5 separate regions of the Homo sapiens genome follow, and all the other regions are linked to region 1. The links come from fine-mapping of genetic effects on gene expression. A gene starts in region 1. Each other region holds a variant in brackets. All regions are shown on one strand. Distances are from middle to middle. Region 1 holds the start of UROD (uroporphyrinogen decarboxylase). Region 2 overlaps ZSWIM5 (zinc finger SWIM-type containing 5). Region 3 has its middle 21 kb from the start of LINC01144. Region 4 overlaps ARMH1 (armadillo like helical domain containing 1). Region 5 overlaps EIF2B3 (eukaryotic translation initiation factor 2B subunit gamma).

The links.
Region 2: its variant is fine-mapped to the expression of UROD in whole blood (TOPMed, PIP 0.98).
Region 3: its variant is fine-mapped to the expression of UROD in whole blood (TOPMed, PIP above 0.99).
Region 4: its variant is fine-mapped to the expression of UROD in monocytes after Pam3CSK4 (Quach 2016, PIP 0.95).
Region 5: its variant is fine-mapped to the expression of UROD in whole blood (TOPMed, PIP above 0.99).

Annotation. Positions count from the first base shown.
Region 1 is chr1:45,008,137-45,014,557 of GRCh38, reverse strand. It overlaps UROD (uroporphyrinogen decarboxylase), which reads right to left and starts at 2,304. Exons shown (of 10, transcript NM_000374.5): 1 at 2,273-2,304; 2 at 1,539-1,651; 3 at 1,343-1,422; 4 at 1,204-1,266; 5 at 767-964; 6 at 488-649; 7 at 1-119. The coding sequence starts at 2,292. It overlaps HECTD3 (HECT domain E3 ubiquitin protein ligase 3), which reads left to right and starts at 3,234. Exons shown (of 21, transcript NM_024602.6): 1 at 3,234-3,669; 2 at 3,852-4,012; 3 at 4,265-4,357; 4 at 4,437-4,572; 5 at 4,875-4,990; 6 at 5,076-5,189; 7 at 5,332-5,414; 8 at 5,857-6,022; 9 at 6,237-6,318. The coding sequence starts at 3,301. RefSeq lists enhancers at 261-797, 2,208-2,337, 2,378-2,427 and silencers at 3,188-3,317, 3,398-3,567.
Region 2 is chr1:45,100,684-45,107,104 of GRCh38, reverse strand. All of the region lies in intron 1 of ZSWIM5 (zinc finger SWIM-type containing 5), which reads left to right. Among named protein-coding and RNA genes, the nearest start is that of UROD, 92 kb to the right of the region's middle. The variant C/T (reference allele first, on the strand shown) is at 3,374.
Region 3 is chr1:45,279,631-45,286,051 of GRCh38, reverse strand. No RefSeq gene overlaps it. Among named protein-coding and RNA genes, the nearest start is that of LINC01144, 21 kb to the left of the region's middle. The variant G/A (reference allele first, on the strand shown) is at 3,610.
Region 4 is chr1:44,708,834-44,715,254 of GRCh38, reverse strand. All of the region lies in intron 6 of ARMH1 (armadillo like helical domain containing 1), which reads right to left. All of the region lies in intron 2 of LOC105378690 (a long non-coding RNA gene), which reads left to right. Among named protein-coding and RNA genes, the nearest start is that of RNU5F-1, 9.9 kb to the left of the region's middle. RefSeq lists a silencer at 2,118-2,177. The variant G/TG (reference allele first, on the strand shown) is at 2,720.
Region 5 is chr1:44,903,258-44,909,678 of GRCh38, reverse strand. All of the region lies in intron 5 of EIF2B3 (eukaryotic translation initiation factor 2B subunit gamma), which reads left to right. Among named protein-coding and RNA genes, the nearest start is that of PTCH2, 63 kb to the right of the region's middle. The variant T/C (reference allele first, on the strand shown) is at 3,032.

The sequences.
Region 1 (6,421 bases):
CCTGCCTCCCGCAACCTGGCCTTCACTTGCTTGGCCACATCACGGATGTAAGGCAGTGCAAACTTGTTGAAGAGCTGTGGGCCAAGATGCCCTGCATGGGACTCAAACAGCTGCAATGCCTAGTTAGGGTATGGTGAAGAAAAATATGTAACACACAAAGAGGAAGTTTCCCCCACATACAAAATCCACCTCAATTTTCCCCAAATGACTTCAATCCCTGATACTGCCTGACCCTAAAAACCCAGTAATTAAAAAAAAAAAAATTTACTTTCCTCAGATCCCAGCACTAACTTTGGTGTCTGAATACTTAGAGCATTAAGCCCCACTGTCAGTGTCAGGATGGGCTTGGCTGCTCCGCTAGATCACTGGAGGCCAAGGTTCTTTCATCCCTGGCATTAAGACCCCTGCCCTCTCAGGTTTAGGACACTCTTGCTTCTGGTCCTTACAGACCAAATCCCAGCCTATTTCTCTCTCTCTCAGGACTCACCTGGGCACCAGCCACCACTTGTCCTACCAGATATGGGACCAGAGCATCAGTGAGGATGCGAAGCAGCTGGTGACTAGCCTGAGGTCTCTGATAGAGCCAGCGCTTGGCCTGAGCCATGGTGCTTGAGCCACCACCCTCAACCATGTATGTCATCAGGGTCCACTAGAGAAGGATAGAAAGATGGTGTCACAGAAGCCAGACTGACCCTTCCTTTTGTCTACCCCAGACCTTCCAGAGTGATCTCCCCGCGCCCCGAGTCCCTGCCCTGTCCCACATTACTGGGGCACCAGCAAAGCCAATCAGCGGCACACGTCCAGCCAGTCGTTGTCGGGTAAGGGTGATGGCTTGGAACACATAGCCTAGCTCAGAGGCTACCACTTCTGGATCCCGTAGGCGTTCTAGGTCCTGCTCTTCTCTTAATGGCTCTGGGAAGCTGGGTCCTTTGCCAGGTACCATGGTCACCTCCATGCCCAGTGCCTGGAGGGGGAGAAAACATCTGGGTTCCCAAAATGGAATCCAGGAGGAAAGGTTCTGTTCAGCTCATTCCAGGAGGAAGGAAAAGGAGAATAAAACTCTGCCAAACTCCATTTCTTTCAACCTTAGTTTTTCCCTCGATCCAGTTAGGATAAGTGCTTATTGTAAACCTTGACTGGACTGATAGAAGGATTTTCAAGGCGTCCTTGGATTATATTCTAGGATCAGGTTTGAGTGGGTACCTGGGGTACAACAAGGATGTCGGAGAAAATGATGGCAGCATCCAGAGGGAAGCGACGCAGTGGCTGTAGGAAACAGGAGACAGGTTGCTAGGTGGCAGACTGAAGGCATAAATCTTTCCCTCTTTTGTGGACCCCTCACCTGCAGAGTCAGTTCACAGCAGGCCTCAGGAGAGCGACACGTGCTGAAAAAGTCCTGGGCAGCCCGGGTTTCCCTAAACTCTGCATACAGAGGGAAGACAGGGCTCAGCCTTGAGGCCCTCCAGAGCCCTCCCCTGCCCCTCGAAAACTTTTCTCCCTCCGGAGTTTTATCTAGATTTCCAGACCCTGACTCTTACCTGGTAAGTAACGGCCTGCCTGGCGCATGCACCAAACGGGAGTGTAGTCTGTTTCCTCTCCCCAGGCTGCTCGCAGGAATGTGTCATTCTTCAGCTCCGGAAAACCCTGAGGTCTGGCGATCAGGTGGGGGTGGGGGTAGGTGTCAGTATGCTACGCTGGAGGCTGGGGAAAGCGCGGGTTCATAAGGCCGATTCAGTCCAGGACCGCTATCTACCTCCTCCAGGCCAGCTCCCAAACCCTGGCTTTCCGCCCGTTCCGCCTCCTCTCTGCCTATCAGGTGGTGCACAAACTCCAGAAGGGCCCGCCCTGGGGCCTCTTCCCTCCACTTAGTCTCTACTCTTCCAAGCTCGAAGCAACCAGAGGGACTGGGGGGAGGGAATGAAGGCCCACTAAGGATAGTTTGGGGGTCTTCGAACTAGTGAGCCTCAGAAACGGGAATGTCACTGGGCTGGTTCAGGGGCTGAGAAATACCCAGGCTGGGGGATAAAGAGGGATCAGAGTTGATGGTCCCAGAATAGAGATCCTGGTTGGAAATCCTGAGGCATCCCTTGAATTAAGGCCCTGGGATGAACATCTCAAAAATCCATGGTTTTAGGATTCAGGATCCCAGCTAACGGAGTTCAGGTTGGGAGGTCTCCAGGGTGGGGAAAGGGGAGTAGAGGGATAGAGTCCTGAGTTGGAAGACTCAAATTAGAAGCCCGGCTAGCCACACCGCGTGCTCTGGAGAACTCACCCCAACCCATTCGCTTCCATGGTCAGCTGTCTGTAACTGCGAGCTCAATCCACAATTTAACCTGAATCTGAGCCTGCCCCCCAGTCCAGGCTCCGCCCCTTTCTGTAGGGAACCAAGAGCGTCGCCATGTTGAAGATCACATGATCGGACTCCAGCGACAGCTCCAGGGCTGCCCTGGCTGCTGCCCGTAGGACCCCTACCTTTTTTCACCGTAAAGTTTGCTGTAGCGACGCAACAACAAAGGCCCAAAAGAAAACTCCGCTGTAAATGTATCTTACGGTGACATGAGGAATTTGTTCTCATCTGACAGTCTGGGTATCCGGAGGCTTGGCGCAAGTCCCACTCATGATACCAACAGTCTTATCCAGCCAGGTCCATACTATAGCCTGGACCTATAGTAGGTGCAGAGGTTAGCTCTGCTCAAGACAGCCCCAGCCTTTAAGGAGCTACAAGACTGGGGAAACAGAAATCAGCAATCACATTAAAATGAATAATGATCTCCAGTGTCCTTGGGATTAGGAGTGACAAACAGAATCAACCCTAATGACTCAAGACTCCTGTCAGTGGCAGGGGAAGGGGCCATTGTCTCAAACACTTTAATCACACCACCCATAGGATAGGGAGTCCAGCAGATTCGCTGGGAGTGGGAGGAAAAACAGCAGGCCGAAGAACCAGAAAAATGACTGTTGGCAATGACCCAGGCTAGCTAGAATGGTGACTTGAATGAGGGTAGTAGCAGTAGAGATAAAATGGTAGTCACAAGGAAATGGAGAGAGGGAGATTGATCAGGTAGCAATCACCAATCTTGGGTTTGGTCGGCTGGGTTAGGGTGGCACAGAGATAAGTAATATGGTTGAGTGTGGGAGTACACAGTCCAATACAGTGAGAGCTGGGGTGCGCTTAGTCCAGAACATACGGCAAAGGCTGGCCAAAGGCGGGGAAGGGCGTGGTGGGAAGCTCTGTCCGCGGTCGCGCCAGCTGTTCCCCGGGCAGGGTCGCCTCTAGGTGCTCACCTCCGCCACTTCGCCATGGCGGGTCCTGGCCCGGGCGCGGTGCTGGAGTCCCCCCGGCAGCTGCTGGGCCGCGTGCGCTTCTTGGCAGAGGCAGCGCGGAGCCTCCGCGCCGGGCGGCCGCTGCCAGCAGCGCTGGCTTTCGTGCCGCGAGAGGTGCTCTACAAGCTTTACAAGGACCCAGCGGGACCGTCGCGCGTGCTTCTGCCGGTGTGGGAGGCAGAGGGCCTGGGGCTGCGTGTGGGCGCCGCAGGCCCAGCCCCCGGTACCGGCTCCGGGCCCCTCCGCGCCGCCCGCGACAGCATTGAGCTCCGGCGCGGCGCCTGCGTGCGCACCACGGGCGAGGAGCTGTGCAATGGCCACGGGCTCTGGGTGAAGCTGACAAAGGTGCGCTCTTCCCTGCCCAGGACCCGGTAAAAGACCCCTGGGGCCAGAGAAACCTCTGGCTGTTTGCCTTTTCTCCCCTGTATTGAGTTGGCATTGCGTTCGGCGCCCTTTGCCCTGGGCTGGGCACGACAGGCGGCTGGGCAGTTCCCTGACGGCTGTCCCCATCCTACGCGTCCCGGCAGGAGCAGCTGGCAGAGCACCTGGGCGACTGCGGGCTGCAGGAAGGCTGGCTGCTGGTGTGCCGCCCGGCGGAGGGCGGAGCCCGCCTGGTACCCATCGACACTCCCAACCACCTCCAGCGGCAGCAGCAGCTCTTTGGCGTGGATTATCGGCCGGTGCTCAGGTACTGCACTTGAAGGAGCGGGGCTGGCTGTCAGAAGGCCGGGCCAGGAGGGCTTGGGAACACTTCAGCCACAGCCTGGGGTGGGTGGGATACTGGAGCGGAGGCAGGGTTAAGAGCAGAAAGGGGCGGGACGTGAAGGGGGCTCGGAGGGAGACTGGGAGATAGAGCCCTGAAGAAGGCTACACGGCATGGAGGTAGTGTCTTGCTGACCGCTGATGTCTCCCCATCCCACTCCCTACTCTGTGCCCACAGGTGGGAACAGGTGGTGGACCTGACATACTCACATCGCCTGGGATCGAGACCTCAGCCGGCAGAGGCATACGCAGAAGCTGTACAAAGGCTACTGTGAGTGAGCTGGAATGGGGTGGGGAGGAAGGAGCTCTGCGTCTGGGCCCAGTCTAATTAGGGGCTTGGGGTTGCTTAGCTATGTACCCCCGACATGGACCTACGAGTGCGACGAGGACCTGATCCACTTCTTGTATGACCACCTGGGCAAGGAGGATGAGAACCTGGGTAGCGTGAAGCAGTATGTGGAGAGCATAGACGTTTCCTCCTACACGGTGGGTGCTGGGGCTCCTCCCACCCCAGGCAAGATATAGTCACACCCCTCAAGGCTAGATCCAGAAAGAACCCCCACCTGCAGGCCAGGACTAAAACAGGGTCCCCACAGGCCACACTCAGTTCAGCTCCCCATCTTGGACGTCTATAGGACCCCTTACATACCCAGCGGCCCCCTATCCCATACCAGTTGCCTGTTAGCCCAACTTCACTATGCTTTCTCTCTGGTGCTCCTGGCCCAGAGCACAAGCCCAGTGCAGGGAGGGAGGGTAACTGCTGACTTCACGTCTCTGCCCCTCCCCAGGAGGAGTTCAACGTGTCCTGCCTGACAGACAGCAATGCCGATACCTACTGGGAGAGCGATGGGTCCCAGTGCCAACACTGGGTACGGCTTACTATGAAGAAGGGCACCATTGTCAAGTAAGTAGGCTCTGGGCAGGACAGGGTGGGTGGGCTATGTCCCTGTGGGTTCACAAAGACTCATATTCACACTCTGACCCTTCAGGAAGCTGCTACTCACAGTGGATACCACAGATGACAACTTTATGCCAAAGCGGGTGGTGGTCTATGGGGGTGAAGGGGACAACCTGAAGAAGCTGAGTGACGTGAGCATTGACGAGTGAGCACGCTGGCCTGGGGAGGGAAGTAGGGCATGTTCCAAGCCTAGCCCAGCTTGAAAGCCTAAGTTTGAGTGAGACTCCAGCAGTCTCTGAAGGCCTGAGGCAGGAGGTATCTGAAGTGCTTCACACTCATCTCCTCAGGACCCTCATCGGGGATGTCTGTGTCCTGGAGGACATGACCGTCCACCTCCCGATCATCGAGATCCGCATCGTGGAGTGCCGAGGTGAGGTTTAAGGCTATAAGGAGGGAAAGAGAGCCCGGCGTGGAGATGGGGGCAAACAGAGAGTGTGTGTGGAGAGAAGAGGATGGGCTTGGAGTTGGGGTGAAGGCGATGCTGAACTAACTCCAGGATTTGGAGCTTTGGGGCCTGAGCCAGCTGGGACATGCCAGGTATAGGCCTGCCTTAAAGCCATACAGGTGGTTGGGCTCACCTGGAAGAGGAACTGAGTTGGGACCCTCAGGCATCCCAGCATTCTAGTGGAAGACAGAGGAATCAGCAGGAATAGATCAATCAGAATCAGGTGATAGAAGGTGATCCCGAAGGTCCCGAGTTTCTAGGGGCTAACGGTGACACAAGGCTGAGCGTTCAAGGAGCCGGTCCCAGGTCTGAGGGCCAAGGAGGCAGCAGGTGCTGTAAATGACCTTACTCTGACCCCTTCCCCCAGATGATGGGATTGATGTTCGTCTCCGAGGGGTCAAGATCAAGTCATCTAGACAGCGGGAACTAGGGTTGAATGCAGACCTGTTCCAGCCAACTAGTCTGGTGCGATATCCACGCCTAGAAGGCACCGACCCTGAAGTACTGTACCGCAGAGCTGTCCTCCTGCAGAGGTGGCTGTGGTCCTGGACCTATGGGCCCTTCCCTTCCCCCAACATTGAGCCTTGTGTGTCTGCATGGAGGAGGTTCCCAAGGTCTCATAGTATAAGCTGTTCAAGGGTCAGAGAAGCCCCCAGGTCCTGCCTTTTCCTGTCCCTTTATGTTGGGGAGTTGGGGGTGTTACAGGTATGCTAAACTCTTTAGCTGCAGTCTATCTACCCATGCCAGATTCATCAAGATCCTCGATAGTGTCCTGCACCACCTGGTACCTGCCTGGGACCACACACTGGGCACCTTCAGTGAGATTAAGGTGAGCCGACCCAGCCAGTGCTGGTCTTGGCATTTCCCCTTCCTGCTCACGTAGTTGTTCATTCCTTAGCAGAGTTCCTAAAATCTACTCTAGGGCAAGACCT
Region 2 (6,421 bases), 93 kb before region 1:
TTCCTAGGCAGAGGTTCCTGTGGCCTTCGGCCCTGTTTGTGTCCCTGGGTACTTGAGATTAGGGAGTGGTGATGACTCTTAACGAGTATGCTGTCTTCAAGTATCTGTTTAACAAAGCACATCTTGCACCACCCTTAATCTATTTAACCCTGAGTTGACACGCACATGTTTCAGAGAGCAGGGGGTTGGGGGTAAGGTTATAGATTAACAGCATCCCAAGGCAGAAGAATTTTTCTTAGTACAGAACAAAATGGAGTCTCCTATGTCTACTTCTTTCTACACAGACACAGTAACAATCTGATCTCTCTTTCTTTTCCCCACATTTCCCCCTTTTCTTTTCGACAAAACCGCCATAGTCATCATGGCCCATTCTTGATGGTCGCTGTCTCTTTGGAGCTGTTGGATACACTTCCCAGATGGGGCAGCCTGGCGGAGGCGCTCCTCACTTCCCAGACGGGGCGGCCGGGCAGAGGCGCGCCTCACTTCCCAGACGGGGCGGCCGGGCAGAGGCACCTCACTTCCCAGACAGGGTGGCAGCTGGGCAGAGGCGCTCCTCACATCCCAGATGATGGGCGGCCGGGCAGAGGCGCTCCCCACCTCCCAGAGTAAGAGCGGCCGGGCAGAGGCGCCCCCCACTTCCCAGACAGGGCGGCCGGGCAGAGGCGCTCCTCATATCCCAGATGGGGCGGCCGGGCAGAGGCGCTCCTCACTTCCCAGATGGGGTGGCCGGGCAGAGGCGCTCCCCACATCCCAGACGGGGCAGCCGGGCAGAGGCGCTCCCCACCTCCCAGACGATGGGCGGCCAGGCAGAGGCGCTCCCCACCTCCCAGAGGGGGCGGGGCAGAGGTGCTCCTCACCTCCCAGACAGGGCGGCCGGGCAGAGACGCCCCTCACCTCCCAGAGGGGGCGGCCGGGCAGAGGCGCCCACTTCCCCGACGGGGCGGCCGGGCAGAGACGCCCCTCACCTCCCAGACGGGGCAGCCGGACAGAGGCGCTCCTCACCTCCCAGACGGGGCGGCCGTGCAGAGGCGCTCCTCACCTCCCAGACGGGGCGGCCGGGCAGAGGCGCTCCTCACCTCCCAGACGGGGCGGCCGGGCAGAGGCGCTCCTCACTTCCCATTCGGGGCAACCGGGCAGAGGCGCTCCTCACTTCCCATTTGGGGCAACTGGGCAGAGGCGCTCCTCACTTCCTCCCAGACGGGGCGGCCGGGCAGAGGTGCTCCTCACTTCTCAGATGGGGCGGCCAGGCAGAGGTGCTCCTCACATCCCAGACGGGGCGGCCGGGCAGAGGCTCTCCTCACATCCCAGACAATGGGCAGCCAGGCAGAGACACTCCTCACTTCCTAGATGGGGTGGCGGCGGGGCAGAGGTGCTCCTCACTTCCCCGACGGGGGCAGCCAGGCAGAGGCACTCCTCACTTCCCATTCGGGGCAGCTGGGCAGAGGTGCTCCTCACTTCCTCCCAGACAGGGCGGCCGGGCAGAGGCGCTCCTCACTTCCCAGAGGGGGCGGCCAGGCAGAGGCACTCCTCACTTCCCATTCGGGGCAGCCGGGCAGAGGCGCTCCTCACTTCATCCCAGACGGGGCGGCCAGGCAGAGGCGCTCCTCACTTCCCATTCGGGGCGGCCGGGCAGAGGCGCTCCTCACTTCCCAGACGGGGCGGCCGGGCAGAGGCACACCTCACATCCCAGACGATGGGCGGCCGGGCAGAGACGCTGCTCACTTCCTAGACGGGGTGGCAGGCAGGCAGAGGCTGTAATCTTAGCACTTTGGGAGGCCAAGGCAGGCGGCTGGGAGGTGGAGGTTGTAGCGAGCCGAGATCATGCCACTGCACTCCAGCCTGGGCAACATTGAGCATGAGTGAGCGAGACTCCGTCTGCAATCCCAGCACCTCGGGAGGCTGAGGCGGGGAGATCACCCGAGGCCAGGAGCTGGAGACCAGCCTGGTCAACACGGTGAAACCCCGTCTCCACCAAAAATACAAAAACCAGTCAGGAGTGGCGGCGCGTGCCTGGCATCCCAGGCACTCGGCAGGCCAAGGCAGGAGAATCACCGGAGCCCAAGGCAGGGAGGTTGCGGCGAGCCGAAGATCTCAGTCTTTTAAAATACACATCTAATTTCCTTGTAGGGGCACAAGTGAAAGAACACTAGAAAACTAGGTAAATGCAAGGTTATCGCTGTAAGTGAATACCTGGGCTTCGGAAGCCTCATTGTTCTTGAACTGTGGTTTCTGGTACAGATGGAGAACAGAGACCACTGGCTGCTGAAGCTGGTGCTGAGGGGGGCCAATGGCTGTTCTTCGGAGGTTAATACAGGGAAAACCACTTGATTTGCCAGAGGAGTCTGGGAGGGGAGCAGATGGCCGCAAGAAGGGCCCTCTAGCTTACTCAGCTGCTCTGAGAAGCTTAGGGTGACCTCTATAATACAAACAAACCAAGTAGTTCTCAGGGTAATGGGGCAGCATCATTTGTATTCCCAAATAACAATACTGCTCCTCACTTTGCAATCTCTCGCACCCTCACCCAGTGTTTGGGCACCATCTGCTTCTTGTGAACTTATATAGGCCCCAGGCGTGGCCAGTTGGGATTGCTATTGAATGATATCTTTGGGAAATGTGTTCTTTACAAATTACTTTCACATGAGTCTGATAGGCAGCTAAGTAGTATTATGTCTATTTGCATAATTAAGAAACTGAGGCAAAGAGGAATTGAGGGGTACTAGAATTACAACTCAAGCATTCTGATTCCTAATCTGTTTGTATCGATAGTATATGGAGCCATTCCAGTGCTCTTGTTTAGGCAGTTGTTACCCAGCTTTTGAGAAAGGCTTTCTGGAAAGGAAATTAGTTATTTTATAGATGTCACTCTCATTGTTTTAATTGTTCTGGTTACTGTTTTGCTAAGTGACAAAAAGGAGAGAAAGAGTGGCTGCTTTACTTCTGCTGGTATACTGCTGTGGCCTTCCGGGAGACAGGAATTAAGTGAGAAGGTCTAATTTATACTATGCAGTTTCATCAAAACCAAATTTATTCAAGAGGAAGCTTTCTCAGTCAAAGAAGTTACTTAGTTTATATATTTGCATATCCTTTTTAACTGACTATAAGAAAAAATATTCTTTTCATAAACCACATCTCTTCTTTTCCCTGCTATTGGCTGAAATGATAATCATTTTCATGCATTAACACCTGCCTAGGGGCCTGGTGAATCAAAAGAGCAATGAGAAAAGTGGTTTTAATTGCCCAAGCTTTACTAGAGCCTTTCTTGCACTCAGAAAAACAAAAGGCTTTGAATGGTGTCAAAGGGCTGCACTGAGAAGTGCTTTCCTTTAGAACTCTAAGCAGATGATTCACTCATGTCCTGATACATTTTCTTGTA[C/T]AGATGAGTTCATGAGCCCACCTTCATTCCAACTATGAGAGCATCACAGCACTTGTCAGTTTCAGTTACCTTGAACATTTGCCCAGGAAAACAGGCAAATGTCAGAGTTTACTGACTTGTTATTAGTGCAGGACTCTCTGTCTTTGTAGAATTACACTTGCTAATTACCTTTACAAAGTTTTGTATACAAATTTAAACTTCAGAGTCATATTTAATATATTGTAGTCCTTAAGAATATAGGCTCTGGAGCCAGACTACCTGTGTTCAGATCCCAACTTTACATTTTACAGGTTGTGTGATCTTAGACAAGTTCTTCTATCTCTCTTATCCTAGTTTTCTTATCGGAAACAGGGAAATAACAACAGAATCTACTTTGTAGGGTTGCTTTGAGCATTTAATTAGTTAATTAGTTAATACATGGGAAGCACTTAGAATACTATCTGTCATGTAGTAAGTATATCCAGTAAATGTTGGCTGATAAAAACTGCTTGTATTTTATATTTTTGAAAATAGGTTATAAAAATTGGCAGAAGCATAACAGGCATAAATATCAATTATGAGCCGGGCATGGTGGCTCAGCTCACACCTTCAATCTCAGCACTTTGGGAGGCCAAGGCAGGAAGATCAGTTGAGACCAGGAGTTTGAGACCAGCCTAGGCAATATAGCAAGACTCATCTCTACAAACATTAAAAAAATAATAATTAGCCAGGTATTGGTGGCGCATGCCTGTGGTCTCAGCTGCTTGGGAGGCTGAGGTGAGAGGATCACTTGACCCTGAAGGTCGAAGTTGCAGTGAGCCGTGATCATGCCAGTACATTCCAGCCTAGGCGACAAAGCAAGACCCTGTACCCCCACCAAATAAATAAATAAATAAATAATTTAAAAATCTATATACATACATTATGGAAAATAATCTTGGTGTTTCAATATTATACCAAATATACAAATTATTGTTACTTTGCTCACCGTCTCAGTAAAATTATTTAATTACTGGCTTATTTTAATCACAAATCAGGAATTTTATAAACATGCTTAATCCTCTGTGAACTGTAGATATAAATATGTAAAAGATTCAGTTTAGTGTTCATTTATTCATTCATCCATACACAGTCAGTTATTAAGTCCTTACCATGTGCCTGAGATGAAAATATAGAGATGAAAAAGATATACATAACTCCCTTATTCAAGGAACTCACAATCTAAAGGGAAACGATAAATGTGAAGACAATTACATTGATGTCAAGTACTATAATGGAGATATGACTGATGAAAAATGAGTGCTTAGGAAGAAGCACTTAACTAGCTGTCCAAAAAGATGAGGGAAGACTTCCCAGAGTAGGGGCTCATTTGAGTCAAGAATTAGCATGAGAAGGAAATGAGAAGGTCATGCCTGGTATAGGAAACTTCACATGCAAAGGCATAAAGGATAAGAAAATGGAGAAAACAGCATAGTCAAGAATCTGCAAATAGTTTGGTGTGTTTGGAATGTGGGAGAGTGGTATGAAGCAAGTCTGAAGAGATAGAAAGAAATCATATTGTAAGAAGTTTGAACTTTATCTTGTAATCAGTGGAGAACCATTGAATGATTTTAAGCAATTCAGTTCAGCAAACACTTTTATAAATGTTTACTCTATGCCAGACTGTTAGGTAACAGAAATATAAAATACATAGTTCACAGTTTTTTTTTTTTTATTATACTTTAAGTTCTAGGGTACATGTGCACAATGTGCAGGTTTGTTACATAGGTATACATGTGCCATGTTGGTTTGCTGCACTCATTAACTCGTCATTTACATTAGGTATTTCTGCTAATGCTATCCCTTCCCCTGCCCTCCACCCCACGACAGGCCCTGGGATATGATGTTCCCCGCCCTGTGTACAGGTGTTCTCATTGTTCAACTCCCACCTATGAGTGAGAACATGCGGTGTTTGGTTTTCTGTCCTTGTGACAGTTTGCTCAGAATGATGGTTTCTAGCTGTATCCATGTCCCTGCAAAGGACATGAACTCGTCCTTTTTATGGCTGCATAATATTCCGTGGTGTATATGTGTCACATTTTCTTAATCCAGTCTATCACTGATGGATATTTGGGTTGGTTCCAAGTCTTTGCTATTGTGAATAGTGTTGCAGTAAACATACATGTGCATGTGTCTTTATAGTAGCATGATTTATAATCCTTTGGGTATATACTCAGTAGTGGAATCTCTGGGTCAAATGGTATTTCTAGTTCTACATCCTTGAGGAATCGCCACACTGTCTTCCACAATGGTTGAACTAGTTTACACTCCCACCAACAGTGTAAAGCATTCCTATTTCTCCACATCCTCTCCAGCATCTGTTGTTTCCTGACTTTTTAATGATCACCATTCTAACTGGTGTGAGATGGTATCTCATTGTGGTTTTGATTTGCATTTCTCTGATGACCAGTGATGATGAGCATTTTTTCATGTGTCTGTTGGCTGCCTAAATGTCTCCTTTTGAGAAGTGTCTGTGCATATCCTTTGCCCACTTTTTGATGGGGTCGTTTTTTTTCTTGTAAATTTGTTTAAGTTCTTTGTAGATTCCAGATATTAGCCCTTTGTCAGATGAGTAGATTGCAAAAATTTTCTCCCATTCTGTAGGTTGCCTGTTCACTCTGATGGTAGTTTCTTTTGCTGTGCAGAAGCTCTTTAGTTTAATTAGATCCCATTTGTCAATTTTGGCTTTTGTTGCCATTGCTTTTGGTGGTTTAGTCATGAAGTCCATGCCTATGTCCTGAATGGTATTGCCTAGGTTTTCTTCTGTGGTTTTTATGGTTTTAGGTCTAACATTTAAGTCTTTAATCCATCTTGAATTAATTTTTGTATAAGGTATAAGGAAAGGATCCAGTTTCAGCTTTCTACATATGGCTAGCCAGTTTTCCCAGCACCATTTATTAAATAGGGAATCCTTTCCCCATTTCTTGTTTTTGTCAGGTTTGTCAAAGATCAGATGGTTGTAGATGTGTGGTGTTATTTCTGAGGCCTCTGTTCTGTTCCATTGGTCTGTATATCTGTTTTGGTACCAGT
Region 3 (6,421 bases), 270 kb before region 1:
TCACATAGTCCCATATTTCTTGGAGGCTTTGTTCGTTTCTTTTCATTCTTTTTTCTCTAAACTTCTCTTCTCACTTCATTTCATTCATTTGATCTTCCATCACTGATACCCTTTCTTCCTCAGTATCCGAATCGGATACTGAGGCTTGTGCATTGATCACGTAGTTCTCATGCCATGGTTTTCAGCTCCATCAGGTCCTTTAAGGACTTCTCTGCATTGGTTATTCTAGTTAGCCATTTGTCTAATTTTTTTAAAAGGTTTTTAACTTCTTTGCCTTGGGTTCGAACTTCCTCCTTTAGCTCGGAGTAGTTTGATCGTCTGAAGCCTTCTTCTCTCAACTCGTCAAAGTCATTCTCCATCCAGCTTTGTTCCTTTGCTGGTGAGGAGCTATATTCCTTTGGAGGAGGAGAGGCGCTCTGCTTTTTAGAGTTTCCGGTTTTTCTGTTCTGTTTTTTCCCCATCTTTGTGGTTTTATCTACCTTTGGTGTTTGATGATGGTGACGTACAGATGGGGTTTTGGTGTGGATGTCCTTTCTGTTTGTTAGTTTTCCTTCTAACAGTCAGGACCCTCAGGTGCAGGTCTGTTGGAGTTTGCTGGAGGTCCACTCCAGACCCTGTTTGCCTGGGTATCAGCAGCGGAGGCTGCAGAACAGCTGATATTGGTGAACAGCAAATGTTGCTGCCTGATCATTCCCCTGGAAGTTTTGTCTCAGAGGAGTACCCGGCCGTGTGAGGTGTCAGTCTGCCCCTACTGGGGGGTGCCTCCCATTTAGGCTATTTGGGGGTCAGGGAACCACTTGAGGAGGCAGTCTGTCTGTTCTCAGATCTCAAACTCCGTGCCGAGAGAACCACTACTCTCCTCAAAGCTTTCAGACAGGGACATTTAAGTCTTCAGAGGTTTCTGCTACCTTTTGTTTGGCTATGCCCTGCCCCCAGAGGTGGAGTCTACAAAGGAAGGCAGGCAGGCCTCCTTGAGCTACAGTGGGCTCCACCCAGTTCGAGCTTCCTGGCCGCTTTATCTACTCAAGCCTCGGCAATGGCAGGTGCCCCTCCCCCAGCCTCGCTGCTGCCTTGCAGTTTGATCTCAGACTGCTGTGCTAGCAATGAGGGAGGCTCTGTGGGTGTAGGACCCTCCCAGCCAGGCGCAGGATATATTCTCCTGGTGTGCCGTTTGCTAAGACCGTTGGAAAAGCACAGTATTAGGGTGGGAATGACCCGATTTTCCAGGTGCCGTATGTCACCCCTTTCTTTGACTAGGAAAGGGAATTCCTTGACCCCTCGCACTTCTCGGGTGAGGCGATGCCTCGCCCTGCTTCAGCTTATGCTCAGTGCACTGCACCCACTCTCCTGCACCCACTGTCCAACACTCCCCAGAGAGATGTACCCGGTACCTCAGTTGGAAATGCAGAAATCACCCGTCTTCTGTGTTGCTCACACTGGGAGCTGTAGACGGGAGCTGTTCCTATTCGGCCATCTTGGCTCCACCAACCAGTGTCATTAACTTTAAAAAAGATGGTCAAAAGAGAAGTAGGGGTAGTTCTTGACTTAATTACAACCTGTAATTTTGTACATTACACTTTGATATCTCTAAATAAAGCTTTTTTTTTTTTGGGATGGAGTCTGGCTCTGTCGCCCAGGCTGGAGCGCAGTGGCACGATCTCTGCTCACTGCAAGCTCCGCCTCCTGGGTTCACGCCATTCTCCTACCTCAGCCTCCCAAGTAGCTGGGACTAGAGGCACCTGCCAACACGGCAGGCTAATTTTTTTGTATTTTTTTTTTTAGTAGAGATGGGGTTTCACTGTGTTAGCCAGGATGGTCTTGATCTCCTGACCTCGTGATCCACCTGCCTCAGCCTCCCAAAGTGCTGGGATTACAGGCATGAGCCACTGCACCCGGCCTAAATAAAGCATGTTGAATGTTTGCACATCTGCTGATAAGTGAACATTTTTATCTCATACTGTGCTAAGCAATTCTGGTTTTGCCAACTTTGTCAGTACAAGATGATTTGTACAGCTATTTGATTTTTTTGTGCATTTTACTGGTATTTTATATAAATAAGTGGGAAATGGAAAAATGAAGTTGCTGATAGTGGTGACAAAATGCATATTTTATAAATTTATTACAATTGAGATCCAATAGCCACCATTAAGTTATGCTGAAAATGCTGACTCTTCATGCTAATTTGGATGCCCATTGGTGTTTATTCAGTTCATTCTGTGTTGATTTGCAAGGGAAAAAAATTAAAGAACATGTACTCATACAACCTAATAGTGAGAAAACAATAACTAAATTTAAAAATGGGCAAAGGAGTCTGGGCACAGTGGCTGTTGCCTGTAATCCCAGAACTTTGGGAGACTGAGGTGGGAAGATCGCTTGAAGCCAGGAGTTTGAGACCAGCTTGGGCAACATAGTGAGACCCTGTCTCTATAAAACACAACCCCCCCTTTTTTTTTTTTAGATGCAGTCTCGCTCTGTTGCCCAGGCTGGAGTGCAGTGGCGCCATCTCAGCTCACTGCAAACTCCACCTCCCAGATTCAAGCGATTCTCCTGCCTCAGCCTCCCAAATAGCTGGGATTACAGGCACACACTACCATGCCCAGCTAATTTTTGTATTTTTAGTAGAGACACGGTTTTACCATGTTGGCCAGGCTGGTCTCAGACTCCTGACCTCAAGTGAGCTGCCTGCATAGACCTCCCAAAGTGCTATGATTACAGGCGTGAGCCACAGTGCCTGGCCTCTACAAAAAAAAATTTAAAAAATTTGTCAGACATGGTGGCATGTGTCTGTAGTCCTAGCTACTCAGGAGGCTGAGGCAGGAGCATCACTAGAGCCCAGGAGTTCAAGGTTGCAGTGAGCTATGATCGCAGCACTCTAGCTTGGGTAACAGAGGGAAACCCTATCTCAAAATCAAAAAAAGAAAGAAAGAAGAAAGAAAGAAAGAGAGAGAGGAAGGAAGGAAGGAGAAAAAGAAAGAAAGAAAGAAAGAAAGAAAGAAAGAAAGAAAGAAAGAAAAAGAAAGAAAGAAAAGAAAAGAAAAAGGAAATTGTAAACTTTGTGAAAACACTTCAAAATGTTTTTTATAAAATACTGAAAAGGGAAACAACAAAAATGACCAATATGTTAGGGGTTAAACATATGACATTTTCTAGAAGATTGGGGCTGATGAAATATTTACTTTGCTAATCTGCAATGTATATGGGAATGCTATGGGAAAATAGCATTAGAATCAACAACACAAATAATTATTAAAGTATTAGTGCCATAGTGCATAGTTACCTGTTTTTACCTTAAGACCACATCTCGATAAATGTGAGCATTCCTTTCTCTAAATTTGCTACTTACGATGTGAAAGCAGCTCTTTTCCAAATGATCTAGAGTATAATTTTTAAGAAATCAGAAGAATTGTGTTGTTAGCTATTAGCTACTATTGAAGCTATTTCACTTGCAAAGGAAGGAAAGCAAACCCACAAATGTTGAGCAAATGCCAAAATGCCAAAAAGGTCTTACAAAATGGTACAGAGACCACAGGGAAACAGCTGTGTTTCTGACAAGCAGCGTGCTCCATCCTGGAAATACAGGAATTAAAGGAGTTAATGAACATGAGGAAG[G/A]AAAGGGAAGTATGATCCAGTCTTGGCTAACTTTCACCTTGGAGGAGCTAATAACAATTCTAGAAATAAAGCAGCAGGAGGAGAAACTACTGATAAGGGTAGCTCAAAATTTGAGGCCCGTGAGATTAAATCTGAGCCAATTTTGCTTTATTTTTGCTGAAGATTTTTTGCAGAGATGAATGCTGTTTGTATTTGAGAGTTGAGAAGACATAATTTACTTATTTATTCAGTCAGCAAATGTAAGAGGTGCTGGGGATCGTAATGTTTGAGGGAGACTTGAAGTTTCGTATGATGGATGGGCCAAGTGACGGTGCTGGGGATTGTGTGGGGTGTTCCAGGCAGAGGGAACAGTGTATGGAGAGGCACAGAGGATGGGCAGATGGTGATGGTAAAGGAATGATTTTCTCTATGTAATAGTGGGAAGGAAAAATGTTGCTCTTCAGAAAGATAATTCCTGGCTTATTATCACTTCCAGGGAAGGGACAACATTCGCAGCACGGATAGGTGGTTCTTTTTTGTTTGTTTTTTCGCTCTTGTTGCCGAGGCTGGAGTGCAATGGCATGATCTCACTCACTGCAACCTCCACCTCCAGGGTTCAAGCTATTCTCGTGCCTCCGCCTCCCGAGTAGCTGGGATTACAGGCATGCGCCACCACGCCCAGATAATTTTGTATTTTTAGTAGAGATGGAGTTTCACCATGTTGGTCAGGCTGGTCTTGAACTCCTGACCTCAAGTGATCCACCCACCTCAGCCTCCCAAAGTGCTGGGATTACAGGCGTGAGCCACCGCGCCTGGCCAGGTGGTTCTTTTTATTGAGGAAACAGCCAGTGATTCTTGGGAGGGGTAAGGAAGGGAGGGGGAGGTATGAGATAAAGAGAGCAGAATTGCTCTGCTCAAGAAAGGAAGAAGTGAGAGGAATTTGGAGTTTGGGGCAGCCTGGGGGAATAGGCCTGAGAAAGTTGGAGAGAGGGGGTCAGTGAGGAGAATAAATGAGAAGATGGGAAGGTCCAAGGAAGAACCTTAGGTCAAATAGAGAAGTCATCATGAGCTGGAGAACAGGAGAAGCAGAGATAAGGGGAACACGAGATTTTTCCAAGGAATATACAAAACACAAAGTTTTTTAGCACAGACTTCCACATTGTGTGGGACAGGGCTTGAGTAATTTTTTTTTTTTTTTTTTGACACTGTGTCTTGCTTTGTAACACAAGCAGGAGTGCAGTAGCATGATCATGGCTCACTGCAGTCTCAAACTCCTGGGCTCAAGTGATCCTCCTACTTCAGCCTCCAGAGTAGCTGGGACCACAGACACCCACCACCATGCCCAGCTAATTTTGTATTTGTTTTTTTGTGGAGACAGAGTCTCATTATGTTGCCCAGTCTGGTTTTGAATTCTTGGCCTCCAGTGATCCTCCCACTTCAGCTTCCCAAAGTGCTGGGATTACAGGTGTAAGCCATCACTTCTGGCCTGAATTTTTAAAAATTTTTATTTATTTATTTTATTTTTTATTTTTTTTGAGGCGGAGTCTCACTCTGTCACCCAGGCTGGGATGCAGTGGCGTGATCTCGGCTCACTGCAACCTCTGCCTCCTGGGTTCAGCAATTCTCCTGTCTCAACCTCCCAAGTAGCTGGGACTACAGGTGCGCACCACCACACCTGGCTAACTTTTGTATTTTTAGTAGAGATGGAATTTTGCCCCATTAGCCAGGCTGGTCTTGAACTCCTAACCTCAGGTGATCCATCCTCCTTGGCCTCCCAAAGTGCTGGGATTACAGGCGTGAGCCACCGTACCCAGCCATTTATTTATATTTTCATGGACAGAGTCTTGCTCTGTTGTAAGCTACTTAAGAGACAGGGGTGGGAGGATAGCTTGAGCCTGGGAAGCGGAGGTTGCAGTGAGCCAAGATGGTGCCACTGCACTCCAGAGTGAAGACAGGGGAGACTCTGTCTCAAAAAACAACAAAAAAAAAAAAAAAAAAGAAAAAAGAAAAGGAAGAAAGAAAATCCCTAGATATAATGGCTGTGCCACTTTGAGTCTGCAGTGAGCTACGATTGTGCCACTACACCTAGGCTGGAATGCAGCGGCACAATCATAGCTCACTGCAGCCTCAAATTTCTCACCTCAAGAGGTTCTCCCCTCTTGGCCTTCCAAAGTGCTATGATTACAGGAATGAGCCACTGTACCCGGCCCCTATATTAGTTTTAAAATGCATTTTTCTATTTAAAAATGTCATTGGGATTTTGATAAGGATTGCATTGAATCTGTAGATTGCTTTGGGTAGTACAGAAAATTTAACAATATTAAGTCTTCCAATACGTGAACACGTGATGTGTTTCCATTTATAACTTCTTTAATTTCTTTCAGCAATGTTTTGCTGTTTTCATTGTATAAATCTTTCACTCCTTTGGTTAACTTAGTTCCTAAGCATTGTAAACGGAATTGTTTCCAGTTTCCTTTTCAGATTATTCACTGTCAGTGTATAGAAATGCAAGTGCTTTTGCATATTGACTGTATATCCTGCTACTTTGTTGATTCATTTATTAGTTCTAACAGTTTTTTGTGAAATCTTTAGGGTTTTCTACATATAAAATCACATTATTTGCAAACAGATGATTTTACTCCTCTTGTCCAATTTGGATGCGTTTTCTTTTTCTTGCCTAATTGCTCTGGCTAGAACTTCCACCATTATGCTGAAAAGAAGTGGTGAAACAGACATGGTGAAAGTGGGCATCCCTTCCTGCTGCAGATCTGGAAAAAAAAAAAAGTGGGAATCTTGTCTTGTTCCTGATCTTAGAGGAAAAGCTTTCAGTCTT
Region 4 (6,421 bases), 300 kb after region 1:
GGGTGCTAACAGCACTGATCATTTATAATTCTTTGATCCCAGAGCCTTGCAAAACCAGGGTTCCGGGTCTTTCTCTGCAGGTCCAGACAAGCCTGCCACCTACTGGACACATATGAGAAGTGCGCTTCCTTACCGAGGTTTGCTTCCTTTTCCAGCAGGGCACTAGCATGAACGTGTTTAGCATGTTGCACTGCTGTAAGAAACAGACCAGTCAGGCGTGGTGGCTCATGCCTGCAATCTCAACACTTTAAGAGGCTGAGGCGGGAGGATCGCTTGAGCCCAAGAGTTTGAGGCTGCAGTGAGCTGTCAAGCCACTCAACTCCAGCCTGGGAAACAGTAAAACTGTTTCCCCCCCAACAAAAAAAGAAAAAAGGCCGGGGACAGTCAAATCAGGTTGGGCAACATCGTGAGATCCCATCTCTAAAAAGAATTAAAAAAAAAATTAGCCAGGCATAGTGGCATGTGCCTGTAGTCCCAGCTACTTACTTGAGCCCAGGAGGTTGAGGCTGCAGTGAGCCGTGCATGCGCCACTGCACTCCAGCCTAGGTGACAGAACAAGGCCCTGCCTCAAGAAAAAAGGAAGAGACCAGTGTCAGCCATCTTCCTGACATTCTGTAATTAATTCTGTCTCTGATTTCTGTATACCCTGCTACCTTTTTTTTTTTTTTTGAGACGGAGTTTCACTCTTGTTGCCCAGGCCGGAGTGCAATGGCGTGATCTCAGCTCACCGCAACCTCCGCCTCCCGGGTTCAAGGGATTCTCCTGCCTCAGCCTCCCAAGTAGCTGGGATTACAGGCATGCACCACCACGCCCGGCTAATTTTGTATTTTTAGTAGAGAAGGGGTTTCTCCATGTTGGTCAGGGTGGTCTCGAACTTCCGACCTCAGGTGATCTGCCGGCCTCGGCCTCCCAAAGTGCTGAGATTACAGGCATGAGCCACCAGGCCTGGCCCCTGCTCCCTCTTTTTTTTTTTTTTCTTTTTTTTGAGACGGAGTCTCGCTCTGTCACCCAGGCTGGAGTGCAGTGGTGCAATCTCGGCTCACTGCAAGCTCCGCCTCCCAGGTTCACGCCATTCTACTGCCTCAGCCTCCCAAGTAGCTGGGACTACAAGCACCCGCCACCACGCCCGGCTAATTTTTTTTGTATTTTTAGTAGAGACAGGGTTTCATCGTGTTAGCCAGATGGTCTAGATCTCCTGACCTCGTGATCCGCCGGCCTCCCAAAGTGCTGGGTACATGCGTGAGCCACTGCGTCAGGCCCCCTGCTACCTCTCTAACTACATTCTGTTCAAAGCTCAATGTTGAAACAATAAAAATATATTTTATGCACACCTTTTGTTTTTAAAGCCAGGCAACAAAGTAACTAATGTATGTGCTATGGTGGTATTTTTATTGCTGGACAAAGAATTACTATGGTGTGTCTTCCACTGGTATCTGCTTTCACCCAGCCCAACCAGTCCGTGTACTGATGTTTTGAACTATCCCTGAGACTCGAGTCAAGCACCAGTGTCCTCAAAAAGGACGCAGTATAAGGCAAGGGCAGGATGCAGATGTTTTGAGGGGCAGGCAAATGGGGAAGTTAGAAATAAGATTTCCCCCCAAGATTTTCACTTAAATCCCCTGGAAGACTGTTTTATAGACTTTTATAAACGCTGAATAAAGTGTCACAGTTGAAGTGCTCATATACTTTTGGGGAAGTAATGCATCTTTTAAAAATAGCAGGTTTTTATGTGAAAGTCTCCCTCAGTGTCAGAGCCTTCTGACTGCTGTTCAATGAAGCTGTACAGGACAGGTGGCCTCTTATACAGCAGGAAAGGCTAAAATTACTGCCCATGTCAGCTGAGAAGTACAAAGCAGGGCCGGGTGCAGTGACTCATACCTGTAATCCCAGCACTTTGGGAGCCCGAGGCAGGTGGATCGCTTGAGCCCAGGAGTTGGAGACCAGCCTGGCCAACATGGTGAAACCCCATCCCCGCTAAAAATATGAAAATTAGCCAGGCATGGTGCTGCATGCTTGTGGTCCCAGCTACTCGGGAGGCTGAGGCACGAAAATTGCTTGAATCCAGGAGGTGTAGGTTGCAGTGAGCCAAGATCATGCCACTGCACTTCAGCCTGGGTGACAAAGCAAGACTGTCTCAAAAAAAAAAAAAAAAAAAAAGGCCGGGCGCAGTAGCTCTTGCCATTGCACTCCAGCCTGGGTGACAGAGCGAGACTCCGTCTTAAAAAAAAAAAAAGTGCAAAGCAAAGGCATAACGTTCTGTAAGGCAAAAACACTAGTTTTTAAATGAGACCCAGGTGGTGCAGTGGCTCACGCCTGTAATCCTAGCACTTTAGGAGGCTGAGGCGGGTATATCACCTGAGGTTAGGAGTTTGAGACCAGTCTGACCAACACGGTGAAACCCTGTCTCTACTGAAGTTATAAAAATTAGCTGGGCGTGGTGGCACATGCCTGTAATCCCAGCTTCTTGGGAGGCTGAGGCAGGAGAATCGCTTGAACCTCGGAGGCAGAGGTTCCAGTGAGCCAAGATCGCACCACTGCACTCCAGCCTGGGCAACAGAGCAAGACTCCATCTCAAAAAAAAAAAAAGAAAAAAGAAGAAATCCTGATGTATTTGCTTAACCCTGTGAGGGGTATGAAGCTAAGAAAACATAATTTTAAAAATATGGTTTACTGTAATCTTAACAATGTTGTCTGTCCTTTTTTTTTTTTTTTTTTTTTT[G/TG]CGGTTCCCTGTAGCTGGGACCACAGGTGTGAGCCACCATGCCCAGCTAATTTTTGTAGTTTTAGTAGAGACAGAGTTTCATGGAGTTTCACTCTTGTTGCCCACTCTGGAGTGCTGTGGCACGATCTCGGCTCACTGCAACCTCTGCCTCCCAGGTTCAAGTGATTCTCCTACCTCAACCTCCCAAGTAGCTGGGATTACAGGCTCCTGCCACATATCCAGATAATTTTTGTATTTTTAGTAGAGAGAGGATTTCACCTTGTTGCCCAGGCTGGTCTCGAACTCCTGGCCTCAGGTGATCCGCCCGCCTTGGATTCCCAAAGTTCTGGGATTACAGGTGAGAGCCCCTGCGCCCAGCCAGGTCTCAAACTCTTGGCCTCAAGTGATCTGCCCGCCTCGGGCTCCCAAAGTGCTGGGATTAAAAGGGTGTCCTTGGGTTTTTATCTACTTCTCAAAGCTGGTAAAAACAAGGCAAGTCTTGTTCTAATACTGAAGAAAGAATAGTGTGGTGGTGAGGGGATGGGCGCAGGAGGCAGACTGACTGGGTTTGATCTACAGCTTTCTCATTTATCATTTTGAGACTGTGGACAGGTTATTTAATTGCTTTGTGCCTCAGTTTCCTCATCTGTAAACTGGGGATGAAAATAGTACCTACTTCACAGAGTTGTTCTGAGGAATAGATGAGATGGTAAAAGAGCTTAGAACAATGCTGGGCACACAGTCATTGTTGGTCACTAGTAGTAGTTATGAGTTAACATTACCATTAGTATCACTGTTGTAACAAAGCTCTGTGAGAACAAGGACTTGTTTCATTTGTCACTATACTCTCAGTGCCCACCCCAGTGCCATTCTTTTTGAATAAGTAAATGAATAAATGAGAAACTTAAATCATTGAAAATGAAAACAACAAAGGACATTATCAAGAAGGTGAAAAGAACCTACAGAATGGGAGAAACCATATATTTGATGAGCACAGAAACTAGAATATATGAAAAACTCTTACAACCCAACAACCAATTTTAAAATGGAAAAAGGACCTGAATAGACATTTCTCCAAAGAAGAAATACAAATGGACAACAAGTCTATGAAACACGTCTATGTTCAACATCCTTATTCATTAGGAAAATGCACTTCGCATCCACTAAGATGGCTATAATTAAAGAATCCCCAGAATAACAAGTTTGGTGAGGAAGTGGAGAAATTGGAATCCTCATATATTGCTGCTACTGGGAATGTAAAATGGTACAACTACTGTGGAAAACAGTTTAGTGGGTTCCTCAACGAGTTAAACAGAATTACCATATGATCCAGCAATTCCACTCCTAGGTAATATACCCCAAAGAACTGAAAACAGGTACTCAATTACATGTATGTGGATGTTCATAGAAGCACTGGTTCACAAGAGCCAAAGGCTGGAAATAGCCCGAATGTCTAATAATGAATGAATGGATAAACAAATTGTGGTAGATACATACAACGGAATATTATTCATCCACAAAAAGGAATGAAGTACTGATGCATGTTACAATGTGGGTGAACCTTGAAAATATTATGCTAAGTGGAAGAAGCCAGACATAAAAGTCATGTATTGTATAATTCCATTTATGTGAAATATATGGAATAGGTAAATCCATAGAGACAGAATGAAGATTGGGGCTTCCCAGGGACTGGAGGGAGTGGAAGGGGAATAGCTGCTCGCTGAATTCAGGGTTTCCTTTTGGGGGGATGAAAATGTTTTGGAACTAGATAGAGATGGTGGTTGTACAACACTGTGAATGTATACTAAATGCCACTGAATTGTTCACTTTAAAATGGTTAATTTTATGTTATGTGAATGTCATCTCAGTTAAAAAATGTGCTTTTATGAAGAAAGAAGTAAACCAAATCTGTGATTAATTTCTTTTCTTTTTTTTTTTTTTTTTTTTTGAGACGGAGTCTTGCTCTGTTGCCTAGGCTGGAGTGCAGTGGCATGATCTCGGCTCACTGCAAGCTCCACCTCCTGGGTTCACGCCATTCTCCTGCCTCAGCCTCCCGAGTAGCTGAGACTACAGGCGCCCACCACCACGCCCGGCTAATTTTTTGTATTTTTAGTAGAGACGGGGTTTCACCGTGTTAGCCAGGATGGTCTCGATCTCCTGACCTCGTGATCCACCTGCCTTGGCCTCCCAAAGTGCTGGGATTACAGGTGTGAGCCACCATGCCCGGCCAATCTGTGATTAATTTCTAGATCAATCATACCTCTTAGAATTAGGAACCTAAGTAACTTTACACAGCCAAGAACCGAAGGAAACTAACAATGAGGTTCTTGCGACCACCAGTCTCTCCAGGTTTCAGGGGGCCAGGGGAGGAGGTGTCACGCATTCAAAGCCTTGTCCATGTCTGTTCGGTTTGGTCAGTTAGGGCCACTGTTTCCCTGCACTAGCATCTCTAGAGGATTCCACTGTGTTAGTGCGAGAGTTCGCTCAGCTACAAGCCCCACTGTTGTACTTTGGGGCTGATGAACCATACTTTCAACTTCGCTATTAATATATGAAATGATCATTTGATTAGCAAGTCAAGTTAATTCCAGGTTCTAGGTCAAGTAGACAAAAATTGTATTCTACAAATGACCATTTTCCAAATTCATAAACAGTTCCATTTTACCATGGACTTGATTCTTATACGTATTTGTTAGCATATTTTCAGCAATTTTTTTTTTGAGATGGAGTCTCCCTCTATCACCCAGGCTGGAGTGCAGTGGCATGATCTGGGCTCACTGCAACCTCCGCCTCCTGGGTCAAGCAATTCTCCTGCCTCAGCCTCCCTGAGTAGCTGGGACTACAGGTGCGCGCCACCATGCTCAGATAATTTTTTTTTTTTTTTCTGAGATGGAGTCTCACTCTGTTGCCAGGCTGGAGTGCAATGGCATGATTTCAGCTCACTGCAACCTCCACCTCCTGGGTTCAAGCTATTCTCCTGCCTCAGCCTCCCGTGTAGGTGGGACTACAGGCGCATGCCACTACGCCCGGCTAATTTTTTGTATTTTTAGTAGAGATGGGGTTTCACCGTGTTAGCCAGGATGGTCTCGATCTCCTGACCTCGTGATCCGCCCCCCTTGGCCTCCCAAAGTGCTGGGATTAAAGGCGTGAGCCACCGCGCCTGCCTGAGATAGGGAAAACAAGGACAGGCTTTGGGAAGAAACTCAAGAATTCTGGCCATAAATTTAAGATGTCTGTTAGACATCCACATGGGAAACCACTTAGGGAAAAAGTATACAGAGATGAGAAGGAAGAGGGTGACCTAACAGTCTGGTAGAGAAACAGGAGAAACAAGCAAAGGAGACTAAGGCAAAACCAGACGGTGGGAGGAAAACTTCTATCACAGAAGCCAACAAAAGAAAGTGAGGGAGTGATCAACTGGGTCGAAAGCAGCTGGGAGGTCAAGTAGGAAGGAAATGGTAAAGAAATGAATAGCTGGGGGGCAACTTGGGGTCAAGGAGGGGTGTACATCCCTAAATGCTATAATTTTACCTTTTTGGTACATGTCTTTTAAGTCTCTTTTAATCCATAAATTCTCAAAGAGGGGCTCTTTTAACAATGGAAGATAGAGAGCATATTTGCACGTCAATGGAGATGGTCCAGCAGAGAAAAAGGGAGAGGTGAGCTACAGAAGGGAAGTCTTTGAGGGAATGTGCTTCAGAGAATAAGCAGAAGAGAGGGCCT
Region 5 (6,421 bases), 100 kb after region 1:
TTACTCTTTTGTACTTTTAATTTACTTCTATAAAATGATATGGCTGTAAGATAACCCATGTCAATATCTTTAAGTCTTTGCTTTGGAGCTGGCCATATAGACTTCAGAGAAAAATCTTCCAATCTCCTGCCTGGGTGGGTAAAAGCTGTGCTGCCAATTCCTGATCATTTCAGGGCTCCTGAGATACAAATCAAGCTGCTTCTTAGCTTTCCTTATAGATGGTTTAGGATTCACCTTTCTTGGATATGCTAAATCTGTTACCACCACCATCCTTTTGTTTTCCAGCTTCCAAAATTTTGTTGTCATCTCTTCTTGTGGTCTTTGTCCTTGTGGGTTTATGTCTTTAAAAAAAAAAAAAATCTGTACTGACACTTCAGTGAGTTTTCAGAAAGAGGATGGGTTAACGCTTATGTTTAATCTGCCATCTTTACCCAGAATCCTGTTTCCTTATTTCAGCCTCAAATCTTTCTAGTCCCTTACTACCACCACTCCTACCCTCTCTTTTTTCTCTCCCTCTCTCTCTCTTTTCCCCCCTCATTTCCTTCTTCATCCAATCTAGGTCCTGTGCCTTCAGGCATTTCTCTCCAAGTCCAAAGTCTTTAGGAGAAATATTATGCACGGATATAAATTGGCAGCACTATAAATTCATGGCTCCTATCTTAGCTGAACCCTCAGAACCACTCTTCATTCTTCCATTTGTCCTGGGCCAGCTTTCCACTCCTCTCAGAAGCTGTTCTCTACCATCACCATTCTCCTGTCAAAACATGGGCCTGCTGATTTCCCCAGCTACCCCATCCATGACTTTGCCTTTATTCAGACCCACCTTCGATTCCTTTCCTCCAGCATTAGAAGAAGTTTGGGGCCAGTCCCTTCATTTATGCCTTTTACCCCCTTTCTTCTGCCACTCCTGGAACCTTTTCTCCATTAGTTTTTTCAACATTCTCCAGAATTTTCAACTTTGCTTTCCACTATCTCTTTATCCCAAATCTATAAATACATTGCTTGTAGAATAAAGCACACATTCCTAAAGCCCTCAGTTATCTAATCATGCTTACCCCTCCAGCCTTATATCTCATCTTTCTCTAACACAACCCCATTCTCAACATTCTATCAGTAGCTATGAAAAATTGCTTATAGTTCTGTTAACTTCTGCATTCCTTGTAATGTCTTTGTCCTTTTACTTTTCACCGTTCCTGGTAATCCTTCAGCCAAAGTTACTCTTCTCTCCCTGGCTAAGAACTTATTTTTCTTTCAAGACTCAGCTCAAATATCATTTTTCTGTGAAGATTTTTCTAATCTTTCCTGTCATAGGCAGAACCGTGCTTCTTCCTTTGTGCTCCCCTATATACTGAAGAAAGTTCTGTGGTAACATTTATAACCCTGTATTGCTCTGGACTATAAGTTACATAAGGATAGTGGTTGTATTTTGTCTTTGTAGGCCTAAGGTCTAATACATGGCCTGACATAGTAGGATCCCAGTAAATTTGTTGGAAGAGGACATTAATGGAGCCAGAGTGTCACCTTGTGTTTGAATGTGCTTTGGCAACAGAGTCTTTATAGGCAGAGCTGAGACTTCTTAATCTTGTGAATTGGAGAAAGGGCTGGAACAGCATTATTTGCACCACATTCTTCAGATCAAAGCAGTCATAAGCCCAGCCCAGAGTCATGAGATGCAAAATAGACTCTACCTCATGATGGGAGGAGCTGCAAAGTTACTTTACAAAAGGATATGAGTACAGAGAGGGGAATAATTGTGGCCATCTTTTTTTTTTTTTTTTTTTTTTTTTTGAGATGGAGTTTCGCTCTTGTTGCCCAGACTGGAGTGCAATGGCGTGATCTCGGCTCACTGCAACCTCCACCTCCTGGGTTCAAGCGATTCTCCTGCCTTAGCCACCGAGTAGCTGGCATGCACCACCATGCCCGGCTAATTTTGTATTTTTAATAGAGACAGGGTTTCTCCATGTTGGTCAGGCTGGTCTTGAACTCCTGACCTCAGGTGATCCCCCCACCTCAGCCTCCCAAAGTGCTGGGATTACAGGCATGAGCCACCGTGCCCGGCTGTGACCATTTTTAAAACAATCTACTGTAGTCCCAACTACCAAAGCATTTTTTGTTTGTTTTTGAGAAGGAGTTTTGCTCTGTCGCCAGGCTGGAGTGCAATGGCACGATCTTGGCTCACTGCCACCTCTGACTTCCTGGTTCAAGCAATTCTCCTGCCTCAGCTTCCCAAGTAGCTGGGATTACAGGCACGCCCCACCACGCCCAGCTAATTTTTGTATTTTTAGTAGAAATGAGGTTTCACCATGTTGGCCAGGATGGTCTCCATCCCCTGACCTCGTGATCCACCCACCTCGGCCACCCAAAGTGCTGGGAGTACAGGCATGAGCCACCGCGCCCAGCCACTACCAAAGCATTTTAAGCAGGGAATGACACAATCAAATTTGCCTTCGAAAGATAACTCTGGATACAATATGGAGAAAGGATTGGAGTTGGGTAAGAGAGGATGCAGAGAGACCAAGTAAGGGAAGGTATTGTAGTAATCCAGGTAAGAAGTAATGGTAATTTGAACTAGGGTATTGACAGTGGAGTTGGAGAAAAGTAGATAAGTTAGAGAAGGATTTAGCAGGTAAAATCTGAGGACTTGGTGTTTGAACCTTGGGGTTGAGAAGTGTAGTGGTGTCAAAAAAGACTCACATTTCAGGTTTGAGCAGCAGGATAATAATCAGATAGGAAGCACTGGGTTTGTGGCAGGGAGATCCGAAGTTCATTTGGGGATCCAGGTAAACAGGAGTAAGTCATATATAGACTCGGTGTTCAGAGGATAGGACTATGCTTCAGATATAAATTTGTAAGCATTAATATATAGATGTCAACTTAGTGTCTTGTACATACCTGGTACTTAGGAGAAAGTTATTTGCCCAGCTGTTGAACCTCAAGGGTGGGGAATGTCTGAGCTAGGTTGTTTCATAATATCTTTTATCCCGGGCACGGTGGCTCATGCCTGTAATCCCAGCACTTTGGGAGGCCGAGG[T/C]GGGCGGATCACCTGAGGTCAGGAGTTCAAGACCAGCCTGACCAACATAATGAAACCCTGTCTCTACTAAATACAAAAAATGAGCCGGGTATGGTGGCGCATGCCTGTAATCCCAGCTACTCGGGAGGCTGAGGCAGGAGAATCGCTTGAACCTGAGAGGCGGAGGTTGCAGTGAGTCGAGATCGTGCCACTGCACTCCAGCCTGGGCAACAAGAGTGAAACTCTGTCTAATTTAGTATAACTCTAGCCATGCAGAAGCTGAAACAAAGCTTTGAGGCATGAACTCCTGAGTGATCCTTCACTGAACCTTTGCCGTGACCATCTCCTACACAACCAGCTTGGAACCAGGCCTGAAGACAGTAGGAATATTGCTTGTGTACTTGGGATAATTCTGGTCAAGGCTGTCACAAGGCCAGCCTAGATTCATGAGACGAGAAAATAGACTCTACCTCATGATGGGCATGACCTGCTGAAATGTCATATTAGCTAGACCAGTGAGACTAGAGTGGAGTGCAAATTAATGTGTCAGTTTTCCCCACCCAGAGTTGTATGGGCCAGACAGCTTAGAAGGATAGCTTGAAAGATGTAACACTCTTGGGCTTATCTTTGAGTAGAAGCTTCTTGTCAGTGGTGCTGTGCAGAATGCTTTCTTGAGCACCTCTTGGGGAGTGAGATGCTTCTAGATCTCAGCAGGTTCTGGCACGCTGAGTTGAGATGGGTGAGGGTGAACAGCAGTGTGATTCTGCCTAGGAAGGCTTTGCTAATTCCTGTGTTACTTATTAGACATGTGGCTCTCATTAGTCTGTGTGATGGTTAGTTTTATGTATCAATTTTGCTAGTCTGTAGTACCTATTTATTCCATCAAACACTAATCTAGGTGTTGTTATGAAGGTATTTTTGTATGTAATTAATATCAACAATCCATTGATTTTAAGTAAGAGAGATTATCTTGGCTAATCTGGGTGGGCCTCATCCAATTAGTTGATAGGCCTTTAAATCTAATCAGATCAGAGAACCAATTCCAAATAACACAGAACAAGTTCAGCAAACCCATCTTTAAGATTTTTTTTTTTCCAGGACCACTTCTAGTAGCAATTTTTATATCAGAGAAACAGAAATGCTGTGAGTCATAGAGAATAAAGGATTTATTACACAATTACGGAAGCTCGTAGAGTAGTGTATGTATGCTGTTGTTTCTGTGTCTAGTGTTGAGCCTGAAATCACTATCAGTCAGCCAGACCATCAGTCAGAAAGGAAAGCTGGATCTGGACAAGAACAAGAACAAACCCACAAGGTCACCTAAAAACTGGACCTGGAGCAGAACTTGGAACTCTTAAGAATCCTTCCACTGTTGGCAGTCTCTGCTGCTTTGAGTCCAGGGTTTTCACCTCAACACAACTGCTTTTTTTGGAGAGGGCCTGAGCACCTCAGGGCTATGGTGTCATAGCCTACCCTGCTGAACAGGCAGACCTCTAGTTTGATAACTCCATATGCACTCCTAACAATCGAGAATCTGTTATTCCTACCACTTACAGTGTGACCAAGATCAGGCATTGGGATGGTATGGTTAGTGCCTTCCTATGTAGCAAATACCAGATAGCCACACCACAGGTGCTTGCCCCAGCACCTCTTGTTAAAATTATAGGTAGCTAGTAAGTAGTAGCCATAGGTCATTCCCTTTTCCCTAGTTCTGAGAAAACTTGATTATTTCAAGCATATCTTGGTCTCTAGTTTCTTCTAAATTGCAGTGATTAGGGAGTAGTGAATTAGCTCTGATTCTTTTAGCGGGAGAGAAGATGCTTCTTTGTTGGAATATGTTTAAGATTGCCAAATCTGGCTGGACATGGTGGCTCATGCCTGTAATCCCAGCACTTTGGGAGGCCGAGGTGGGCAGATCACGAGGTCAGGAGATCGAGACCATCCTGGCTAACACGGTGAAACCCCATCTCTACTAAAAATACAAAAAATTAGCCGGGCACGGTGGCAGGCACCTGTAGTTCCAGCTACTCAGGAGGCTGAGGCAGGAGAATGGCATGAACCCAGGAGGCAGAGCTTGCAGTGAGCCGAGATTGTGCCACTGCACTCCAGCCTGGGCAACAGAACGAGACTCCGTCTCAAAAAAAAAAAGATTGCCAAATAAAGTAGAAGGTGATTATCTGAAGGTCTTCAAATAGAGGAGTTGTTTATGTTGCTGCATTGAACACTGCAAGATAGTTAAGTTACTGTAGGAGGCTTTTATCCTCATCTGAATTGTTATCTCTGGTTTTATGAATAACTGTTTCAAGCTCCAGTTCCACTGGCATCTGAATTCAGAAGCCATCCATGACACTTCCTTCTCTGTTAACATTCATATTCATGCAAAGAGAAGCCTGTGATAAAATTAATTTTCTCTTGTATTTGACTTTTTTTTGTGCAACTGGGTTTTCTTCATTCTGTTCTCACCCAATACCATTCTCTGGTCCCCAAACTTTGAACTTAGCTTGGTTAGGAAAAAGTCATTCTGTGCAGCCATATAAGCTGGCAGGACACACTCAGTTTTTTGGGTTTTTTTGTTTGTTTGTTTTGTTTTTTTGAGATGGAGTCTGCCCTGTCTCCCAGGCTGGAGTGCAGTGGCATGATCTCAGCTCATTGCAACCTCCACCTCCCGGGTTCAAGCGATTCTCCTGCCTTGGCCTCCTGAGTAGCTGAGATTACAGGTGTGTGCTACCACACCTGGCTAATTTTTTTTGTAGTTTTAGTAGAGATGGGGTTTTGCCATGTTGGCCAGGCTGGTCTCGAACTCCTGACCTCAGGTGATCCATCCATGTCAGCCTCCCAAAGTGCTGGGATTATGGCATGAGCCACCACACCTAGCCAACACACTCAGTTTAAATTAATGATGGCTTTCCTTTCTCACTGAGTAACTGTGGACTATATCAACATGCATACCAGTTCTCCCACTAGGCTAGAAATTCTTACGGTCTCATTCACAGCAATGCTGAAAATCTAAATGTGTTCACACAGGGTGTCTAGATGAATTTCAGTTTTTAAACATGCAGCTACTATAAACTGCTTCTTTGCCTGTCAGCTCTTTTCTACCCACCCTTCTAGGAACTAAGCATTGTACAATGAGCATATTGGGGAATAGAACTCCCAGTTGGCTTCTGCTGTACTTAGGCAGTGAGCAGGATAAAAACAACTCAGTTCCTCCCACACACATGATGATGCTGGGAATGGGGAAGAAGGGAGCAGACTTCAAGAACATTTGGCATTGCCCTGAGCCTGGGGACCTTTGTAGATTTGAAGGGAATGAGGATCTGAAAATCCCTGGAGATCTTTTGGGGGAAAATTAAAGATCTTGTTGTTAACTAAAGACCTTTTTTTAGAGTCACTAAGAGCTTTGGACATGTA